2 separate regions of the Homo sapiens genome follow, and region 2 is reported to be linked to region 1. Evidence: microRNA targets listed by miRTarBase, many of them from high-throughput screens and not tested one by one. Region 1 holds a microRNA gene; the other region holds the end of a gene's coding sequence.
What was found. The annotated mature microRNA hsa-miR-5685 reads ACAGCCCAGCAGUUAUCACGGG and lies in region 1 at 2,547-2,568, shown strand. An mRNA with a match to its seed (bases 2 to 7 or 8) in the 3' UTR can be bound and repressed. Matches are read on the target gene's strand: a 7mer-m8 pairs with bases 2 to 8, a 7mer-A1 pairs with bases 2 to 7 and ends in A, and an 8mer does both.

Region 1 (4,523 bases):
AGTGTTTGGATGACGGGACTTTTGACTGAGACATTTGCTAAAACTCCCAGGCTGAATCTGAAGGTGGCAATCTCTGAAAATTATAAGAAACTTTGGACTACAAGCTTTCCAAAAACCAAGTACAACCTTAGAAAATTTATATCAAGTTTTGGTGCTCGTTATAGAAGACACCTTGATCACCATGCTTCAGGGAATATGAGGGTTGTTAGAACATGTGGAGACTTCCTAATGCATGACAGCTAAAGCTGTATTTCAAAATGAGCCTTGCTCCCTGGTACTCATGCAACAGTGTGATCCTATTTTCCTCACCTGCCCGTCTCAAACCTTCCACACCATACAGAAGGACCAGAAAGAACCTGGAAAGTTGCCCTCTAAGTCAGAGAATATTGTACCTATTCCTTAATATGTCCCCAGTGGTATCTCCCTCATCTCACCCAATCAGCACAGAAAGTTCACTTAACTAAAAAAGGGTTTTGTGTGCATAGGTACATAAACTATCATTAAAAGCAACTTGAACACAAAGCTGAAAGCCTGACCTAGACATTTACAGAAACAGCACCTTTTCTGAAAGCCTTAGTTTCAACTCTCCTCCCTGCTCACACCTGTTCCCCAAGTCCCCGTCTCTAATACTTACAGTGGCCGCAGGGGACCCAGTTCATCACAAACCACCAGATGTTCAGCATCGAGGCATGGTGGTAGACGTGCAGGACCGTGATCTGGTGGTTGTTCTTGCGCAGGATGAAGAAGAAAGTGTCCATAAATTCTATGAGTTTGGAGAAGTAGTACCACCAGAGGACACGGATAATCTAAGAGGAAAGGGTCAAAGATTTAAGGCTTATCCTCACGGCTTCTCTGGAATATCACCTCTGACATGTTTCACTAATATCCAAAAATCTGATGTCAACTCGGAGAAGCCCGAGTGCCCCAAGAGCTCTTAATGTCCATCAGTGGCTGGGAGCTATGGTCACTCTCCAAGTACCTTTAACCAAAGAACATGATTGGGTTGGGACAGCTGGAGGGGTTTGAAATGACTACAGGGAATATTTTTGAAAGGGTCCCTGACACTCTTTGAGACTAACAAAAACATGAGGCTCAAGGTTCAAAACCTTGAAGTCTGCCTATTCCCTCTGGAAGCAGCCTGCACAGCCATTAGCAAAGGAAAACCATCTGAAAAACGCTATTGATTTCAGGGACTAACATGGAGCAGCCGACCTGATAAGTGACACAGAAGAAAAGGAATCAGAACCTGCAGTGTCAGGTCTCTGCCCAATTAAACATGTCAAACAAGTGCTCTAAGGAGATGACTGCCCATGCTGAGCTGCGACTGTTGGCCTGTGATTTAAAACAAACCTCATGAGTGGAAGTCAGATTTTATTTTTAACACCACTACTCGGAAAAAAGTACTTGGATGAATGATTTTAAAAATTTAAGACATTGCTCTTATGATCCTGATTGTGTAAATATAACATACTGACTGCATGTGATTTTTCCTGCCAATTGTTAACCGGAGTTATTTTTACAGAGGGGGATGCTTTAGGTTTTATTTTATACCTTTCACATTCAAATTTTAATTTGATGTGTATATATTGCCTTTTTTATTCTTTTAAAAATATCAACAGGGATTGCCTGGGCAGTGAGGTTATGGGCCATTTTGTATTTTATACAATTTATTTTTAAAAACTCAACACTTATAATAATAAAGTTTCTGAAAAAGAGACAGTACCTTCATATCTGATTCTCCTGCGGTGCGTGTGCCCTGACAGAAGAAGTTGTATTTGCCTTCCCATACTCCTGTTACTAACTAAAAAAGAAGAAAGAGCCAGTCACCAACAGCATCTGAGCCATGTAAAGTCCTCATTGAACTTTATTAGTTGCAGAATCTGTGATAATTTACCTTGGGCTGTGCTGAGCCAAGTTTGCTCTGAGAAAAAACAATTGTAGGCAAGTGTAAACAAAAGGAAAGCTTTAATGACTTGAGTCTCAATTTCCTAAGGGGTGGGCTTAAAAGTCACTCCCAGGCTGCTGCCCTCAGAGACCTTCCTTTACCACGCTGCTTCTCTGCAGAACCCTCAGCCCGTCACCCCCTTGGTCCTAGCACAAGTGCCCAGACCAAGCCAATCACAGGCTCCCTGCTCTGCCCCACAGAAGCCTCTGGCTGCTTTCCCTAAGCCAGTGCTCCTCAAACTTGAGTGTGCAGCACCAGAATTACCTGAGGGGTGAGTTAGTAAAACATGGGTCCCTGGGGGTGTTTCTGTTCCAGTAGGTCTGGGGGCCTAGAATTTGTATGTCTAACAAGGTCCAGGTGATACTGATGCTGCTGATGTGGAAACCATACTTTGAGAACCACTGCTGTAGGCTCAGGGATAATTTAGTCCAACTTTATCTTCATTATTTCCTGTTGTTGTATGTACAATCCTCCGGATCCATGAATTAGGCTTCACAAACTGAAGGCTTCACAAGTGCCCATGCCTCAGAATCACTTGCAGCACAGTAGGCACTATGCTGTCACAGAGAGGACCCCAGAACTGGGGTACAGGCTCTACATCACAGCCCAGCAGTTATCACGGGCCCCTCCCCTCAATGGGCCCGTGATAACTGCAGGGCTGTGATGTAGAGTCTGCACCCCAATTCTTGTGTTCCCTGTCCTTGAACACAAGAGTTTAGCTTGGCGAGCAACACAGATTCCCCCCCAGGGAACAAGAGGTGATTACAAGGATCTGAAGACACCTTGTGATATTTCCACCTGGTCTGACATCAGAAATAAATGGCAAAAAATGGGTGTAGCCGCTGCACTCACGCTGGGTATCCTGCCTTCTATCTGATTTTTCTTTGGTTATCTTTCTTCTTGCCATTTTCCTTCTGCTTTGTCACCTTCTACACATAAAAAAGCACTGAGAGTTAACAGGCTTTTCATGGCCAAAGAAGAGCACAAGGATTTAGCATGGGAGAAGCATCAGTTCATGATGAAGAGCCATGGAATTAGGAGGAAGGCTTGAGTGCCAGGCCCAGCACCTGGGGCAAGCCAGCTAATTCCTGTGGGCTTTTGTTGTTTTTACTATAAAATGATGAGGTTGGACTAAATTATCTCTAAAGGGTCTGTTCCAAATTTCTGTAGCTTCATGTTAACAGACTTTAAAAACAGACCACACAACAAACTATTCTATACTATCTTTGAAAGATCAGTACCCACATGGTAATTCATTAGAAGGTGTATTAACTTTTCTGTCTTCTACTACTCTCTAAAGTCATGGCCAGTCAAGCAGGATCCATGCAGGCTGATCAGAAGTCCTAAGAAGCAAGACACAAAGTCTGAATCCAAAGTGCGTTGGAGGTCGGGGGAGGAAGCTGGCATGCACTCTTGAGACCTGGGGTGGAGAGGGAAGGGCCAGCTTAGCACAGTGCTCTTTTTGCTGCCCTTCTTTCTACCCCAGGAGGGAACCAAGGAACTACCTCCTGTGGCTTGAGGGTACAGAAAGGAAACTGGTGCTTCTTGATGAAATGTTTGTGGGACAACCGCGAATAAGAAAAATAAGGACAACGCAGTAAGGTTTTCATGAAGATAAATTCGTGCAATGTAAAAGATCCTCTTTTTTAAAACAGCAGCCTCTCTTGGCAAAATTAAAAACGTACTAACATATGACTGTCTTCATCAGAGATATTTTTGGAAATGTTACCATTTTATGAATCTTAAATCTGGAACCTACCATCACTGTTTTTTCCAGCGACTATTTTGGTTTATGGTGTCCAGAGACATCCTGGGTTGGTTTTGCTTTTGTCTGTTTTAAAATAGGATGGCTGGTGTGTGTGCACTTGTGGAGGTGTGGATGACTGCATTCATGAATGTCTATCTTGGCAGGGGTGGGGAAAATCAAGGTAGCTCTCTGGAGAAGAGGAGGACAAATCCTCTCTTGTAATTCTGCAGGCGCCTCAATCCCAAAGATGAGAACGGGTTGAAGGGGTCTTGTTAACTCAGCAGAAGGGACTCTTGGACACAGGCTTCCTTTTTAAGAAGGGATCCAGGTGGGATTGCCTTGACTCTTTAAACTAGTTAACCTAACGTTCCATTTGCCCTCTCCCCACCCATAAATGGGGCAGGGGAATCCATGTATAAAACACCTGTTGTCTTTGGAGTTTAGTTAAAGAACTCAAACCTCAGTATTGGGTGGTGAACTTTTTTCACTCCTGAAGCATAAACCAGGTATACACACAAGAAGCTGCTCACTCGGTGCCACTCCACTTGACCTAGGCCCACCATTCCTCTTCCACCTGTTGAGGTTCCCTGTAGGAGCTCTGTCATGCTTCAATGCAACACTCCCTCCACTGCTACTCACACCTACCACACTTCCACTGGGGCCGCTGTGCCCCTCAAACCACTGAATTCCATATTTCCATATTTAAAACCCTCCAGTGAGTCATCATTGCCTTCAGAATGAAACCCTGAATCCTAGGTGCAGTGTCCAGGTATTTAGTCTTCCACAACGTGGTCCCAAGCTTATCTTTCACTTCTCCCCTACGTGCACACA
Region 2 (4,000 bases), not on the chromosome of region 1:
TGTGAGGAGGCAAACAGTGTCCAGCAGGCCTGCCCCAGAACCCCACTTCATCCAAGGGGGCTGGGAGGTCTCTGATGAACCCAACCATGTGCCTTCACAGCCCCGTCATGTGCGTCTCCAGGTGTGAGACAATGGGATGTAATGACCATTGTTCTCGATGCCAGTAAAGCCATGCCTGGGCACATGCCAAGAGGAGGTTGGTGTCTGTTTACAGGACCTGCTTGGGTTGGCAGTTCCCATGGGGAAGGGAAGAGGCGTGGTGGGAGCTTGGCCCAGCTTGGCAAACAAAGCCAGTGGGAACACAAGCCTGTCCTCCTCCATGGCCAGGGGTGGAAAAAAGAGTGTGTAAAGCCAAGCCCAATGCCCCTCTTTCCATCTGTCCCCCAGATGTCCTACGCTTCGACAACACCTATAGCTTTGTCCACGCCAAGAAGGTCAGCTTCACAGTGGAGGTCCTGCTCCCTGACGAGGGCATGCAGAAATATGATAAGGAGCTCACCCCTGTCTAGGTGGCTCCCTCATTTCTCAGAGACCTCCTAACCCTTTGATTTCTCTGTTTATATCCTACACTCCCTCCCTCCCTGAAATTGATTGTTAGTCCTCCTGACTCTGTGACGTTAGTGAGTACAGAAAGAGATGCCCTGGGGAAAACTCATCTACTGTGGTCAGATCAAGAAAGGTATGAGAGGCACAACCTTGGAGGGTACCAAGGTTGCAGAAGAGGAAAAAGCAAGGGTAAAGGCAAGAAGTGGGTGTCATGAAACTCAATAAATAGCAAAATGAATCCCCTAGCCTTTGTCCTCACCTACCCTAAGGCAGGTGTGTATGCTTGAATTCCTTCCGTATGGCTGTGAGCAACTTGGGTTGGAGACATATCTAAATCCTTTTTACTTCCACTCCCTATATATAGTAGATGCTCAGTGTATATTTGTGGCATTGAATGGAGGACCAGAAGGTAGGGTGCAGGTGACTCAACAGCTGTACATGATTAGGAGGAGCCTATGTGGGGTGGATTTCAGCACCTTGGACAGGAGCAGATGTGTGGTGGGGTTGGACTCTCTTCTGGAGACCCAGACAATTCAGTCTCCAGATTTCTGGCAGTGGCTGTCTTTTGAGGGCCCCAGCCACAAAGGCCACATGCCTCTGATAGGAGCTGCCTACATCAGGCTTTGTCTGACTTGCACGCTCAGCTTCCCACCCTAACCCACTTCCCTTGTTGCACATAGCTTATGTTTTAGGGACTTTCCTGGAAGCAAAGGCAGTCACATCTGGCATAATCATAATAAAGAAAACAACTATCATTTGGCGAGTGCTCTCTGTGTACCAGAAACTGTGCCAAGAGCTTTGTGAGTTTAGCATGTTTTATTCTCATGCCATCCCCAAGGCCCTTTATGGATAAGGAAATGGAGGCTCAGAGGGGTGAAGCTACTCACTCAACATCTTACAGCTTGGGTGGCAGATCCAGGACCTGGGGCAGGGGGTGTTCGTTTGTTTGTTTATTTGTTTGTTTGTTTGTTTTTTGAGACAGGGTCTCGCTCTGTCGCCCACCCAGGCTGGAGTGCAGTGGTACAATCATGGCTCACTGCAGTCTTGACCTCTTGGGCTCAAGCCATTCTCCCACCTCAGCCTCCTGAGTAGCTGGGACTACAGGTGGGCATCACCACACTTGGCTAATTTTTTTGTATTTTTTTGTAGAGATGGGGTTTCCCCATGTTGTCTCAAGCTCCTGGCCTCAAGTGATTTACCCCCCATCAGCCTCCCAAAGTGCTGGGATAACAGGCCTCAGCCACCATGCCTGGCCTGTTTTTGCTTTGTTTACTCCAATGACATTGCTCTCAGTTGCCTTGTAATACCGCCTCCTGCCTATAATCCCAGCCCTTGGGGAGGCTGAGATGGGCGGATCGCTTGAGCCCAGGAGTTTTAGACCAGCCTGGGCAACATAGTAAGACCACATCTCTATCAAAAAAATTTAATATAGTAAGAATATGACCTCCTAAGATTCCACTTTTACAAAGGCAGTGAGAAGGCATGATTTATTTGTTCTAGACCTTCCAGTAGAAGTGTCCTGCATGTCACCCTCTCCAGTCCCTGTTTGTGGGTAGAGGAGGTGATAGGCCATAGAGACCCACAATACTGAAGCAGCTTGTCCAAGGAAATTCACAGCAGAGTGGGGCAGGGCTTGTGTTCCTCAGCTCAGCATCCTGTCCGCTGCTCACATGGCATCTGTGAAGCACAACCCCCTGACGCTCACCATGACCCTGGGTGACTAGGGCAAAGGCCAGGACTCCAGAGTTTCCTTCCCAACTTTCTGCTGTGATTCGGGGACGTGAAGAGGCTGGCTTGAGCCCCAGTCCCTGACACAACTCTTGCCAGGGGAGCCGGATCACACCCGGGAATGGGGATGAATGGGAACCAAAGGCTGGTGCCATGAGAGGCTCCTTGGAAACAAACAAACGGAGGGCTGAGCTCATCCGTGGGCAGGCTATGAGGTCTGACTCAGGCTAGTCAAGCAAATATTCAGCAGCAGCAAGCACTTTCCCACATGCACTTATGGGTGCAAAATCTGATATCTGCTTTATAGATGGGAAACTGAGCTCCCAAAGGCACTGGCCTTGTATCTTCAGCCTACAGGTGACAGAAATAGTCCTGGAGCTAAGGCTGCCCCTTACCCCGTCACCTCTTCACCCCCACCACTCTTCTATAACAATTTGTCAGAATGGGACAAGACTGCCTTCTTCCTGAGCTGGCAGGGAAGGAGGAGGGAGGAGGAAGGAGAAAGGAAAAAGGAAGGAAGAGAAGAGAAAATGAGGGTTGTCAGATTTAGAAAGGAAAAAAAAAAAAAAGCATGGCCAGGTGCAGTGGCTCATGCCTATAATCCCAACACTTTAGGAGGCCAAGGCAGGCGGATCACTTGACGTCAGGAGTTCGAGACCAGCTTGGCCAATGTGGTGAAACCCCGTCTCTACTAAAAATACAAAATTTAGCCTGGGGAGGTAGCACATACCTGTAATCTCAGCTCCTCAGAAGGCTGAGGCATGAGAATCTCTTGAATCCAGGAGGTGGAGATTGCAGTGGGCTGAGATCACACCACTGCACTCCAGCCTGAGCAACAGAGCAAGACTCCATCTAAAAAAAAAAAAAAAAAAAAAAAAGACATACTTAAAATGTATCCATTGTTTATCTAAAATTAAAATTGACCTATGCATCTTATATTTTATCTGACAATCCTACCAATGAGGGAAGATGGAGGGAAGAGAGAGGAAAGGGAGGAGGATGGAAAGAGGGGGATGGGTTCACCTTCTTGGAAGACGGTGGCAGCACCCACAATTTGGGCCAATGATGTCATGGAATCCTTGGGAGAGGATGGCTTAGTGTGGGTGATGCAGGGTCGGGGGACAGGGTGGTCTCACCCTTGACCACCAAAGGAAAGGCCTCGATGTTGAAGCAGGGTCTGAGGTAGAGAGTGTGGACCCTTTGTGCCTTTGGGACTAAGATGAGCAGTGCTGTTGCCAGAGCTCCTCTGTGGCAGCTGAGTGGAGGGGACTTGCACCAGGAGGTGGAGCAGTGCAAAGAACCTAAGGCCAGGGCCAGAGCTGAGATCTGCAAAGTGCCCATCAGCATCCGCTGATGCCCACCCCTGGCAAGCCAGCTCCCACTGTGTGCACACAGCCAGTAAGAGGCAGGCTTCCCAAGCTCCAGCTTCTAGCCTCCAGTCTTACTCAGGGTCTAGATGCTCAGCTCCAGTCCTGAATCTCCAGGAGGCAGCATTGGGGAAGGAAAGAGACCCACTTTGTAGCTTTGGCCAATGGTCACTAATAGAGTTTGGATATTTGTCCCCTCCAAATCTCAGGAGGAAATGTGGCCCCCGATGTTGGAGGTGGGGCCTAGTGGGAGGTGTTTGGGTCATGGCGGTAGATCCTTCATGAATGGCTTGGTGCCTGCCCGCCATAATGAGTGAGTTCTTATTCTACAATTGCTTAAAAGAGGCTGGCACCCCTCC

Region 2: miRTarBase lists SEC14L3 as a target of hsa-miR-5685. The part of its 3' UTR that is shown has no 7-base or 8-base seed match.

Annotation. Positions count from the first base shown.
Region 1 is chr6:53,274,456-53,278,978 of GRCh38, forward strand. MIR5685 (microRNA 5685) reads left to right here and starts at 2,538; the gene lies at 2,538-2,616. ELOVL5 (ELOVL fatty acid elongase 5) reads right to left here. Exons shown (of 8, transcript NM_021814.5): 4 at 1,724-1,801; 5 at 635-806.
Region 2 is chr22:30,456,530-30,460,529 of GRCh38, reverse strand. SEC14L3 (SEC14 like lipid binding 3) reads left to right here. Exons shown (of 12, transcript NM_174975.5): 12 at 388-1,301. The coding sequence ends at 509. Among named protein-coding and RNA genes, the nearest start is that of SEC14L3, 13 kb to the left of the region's middle.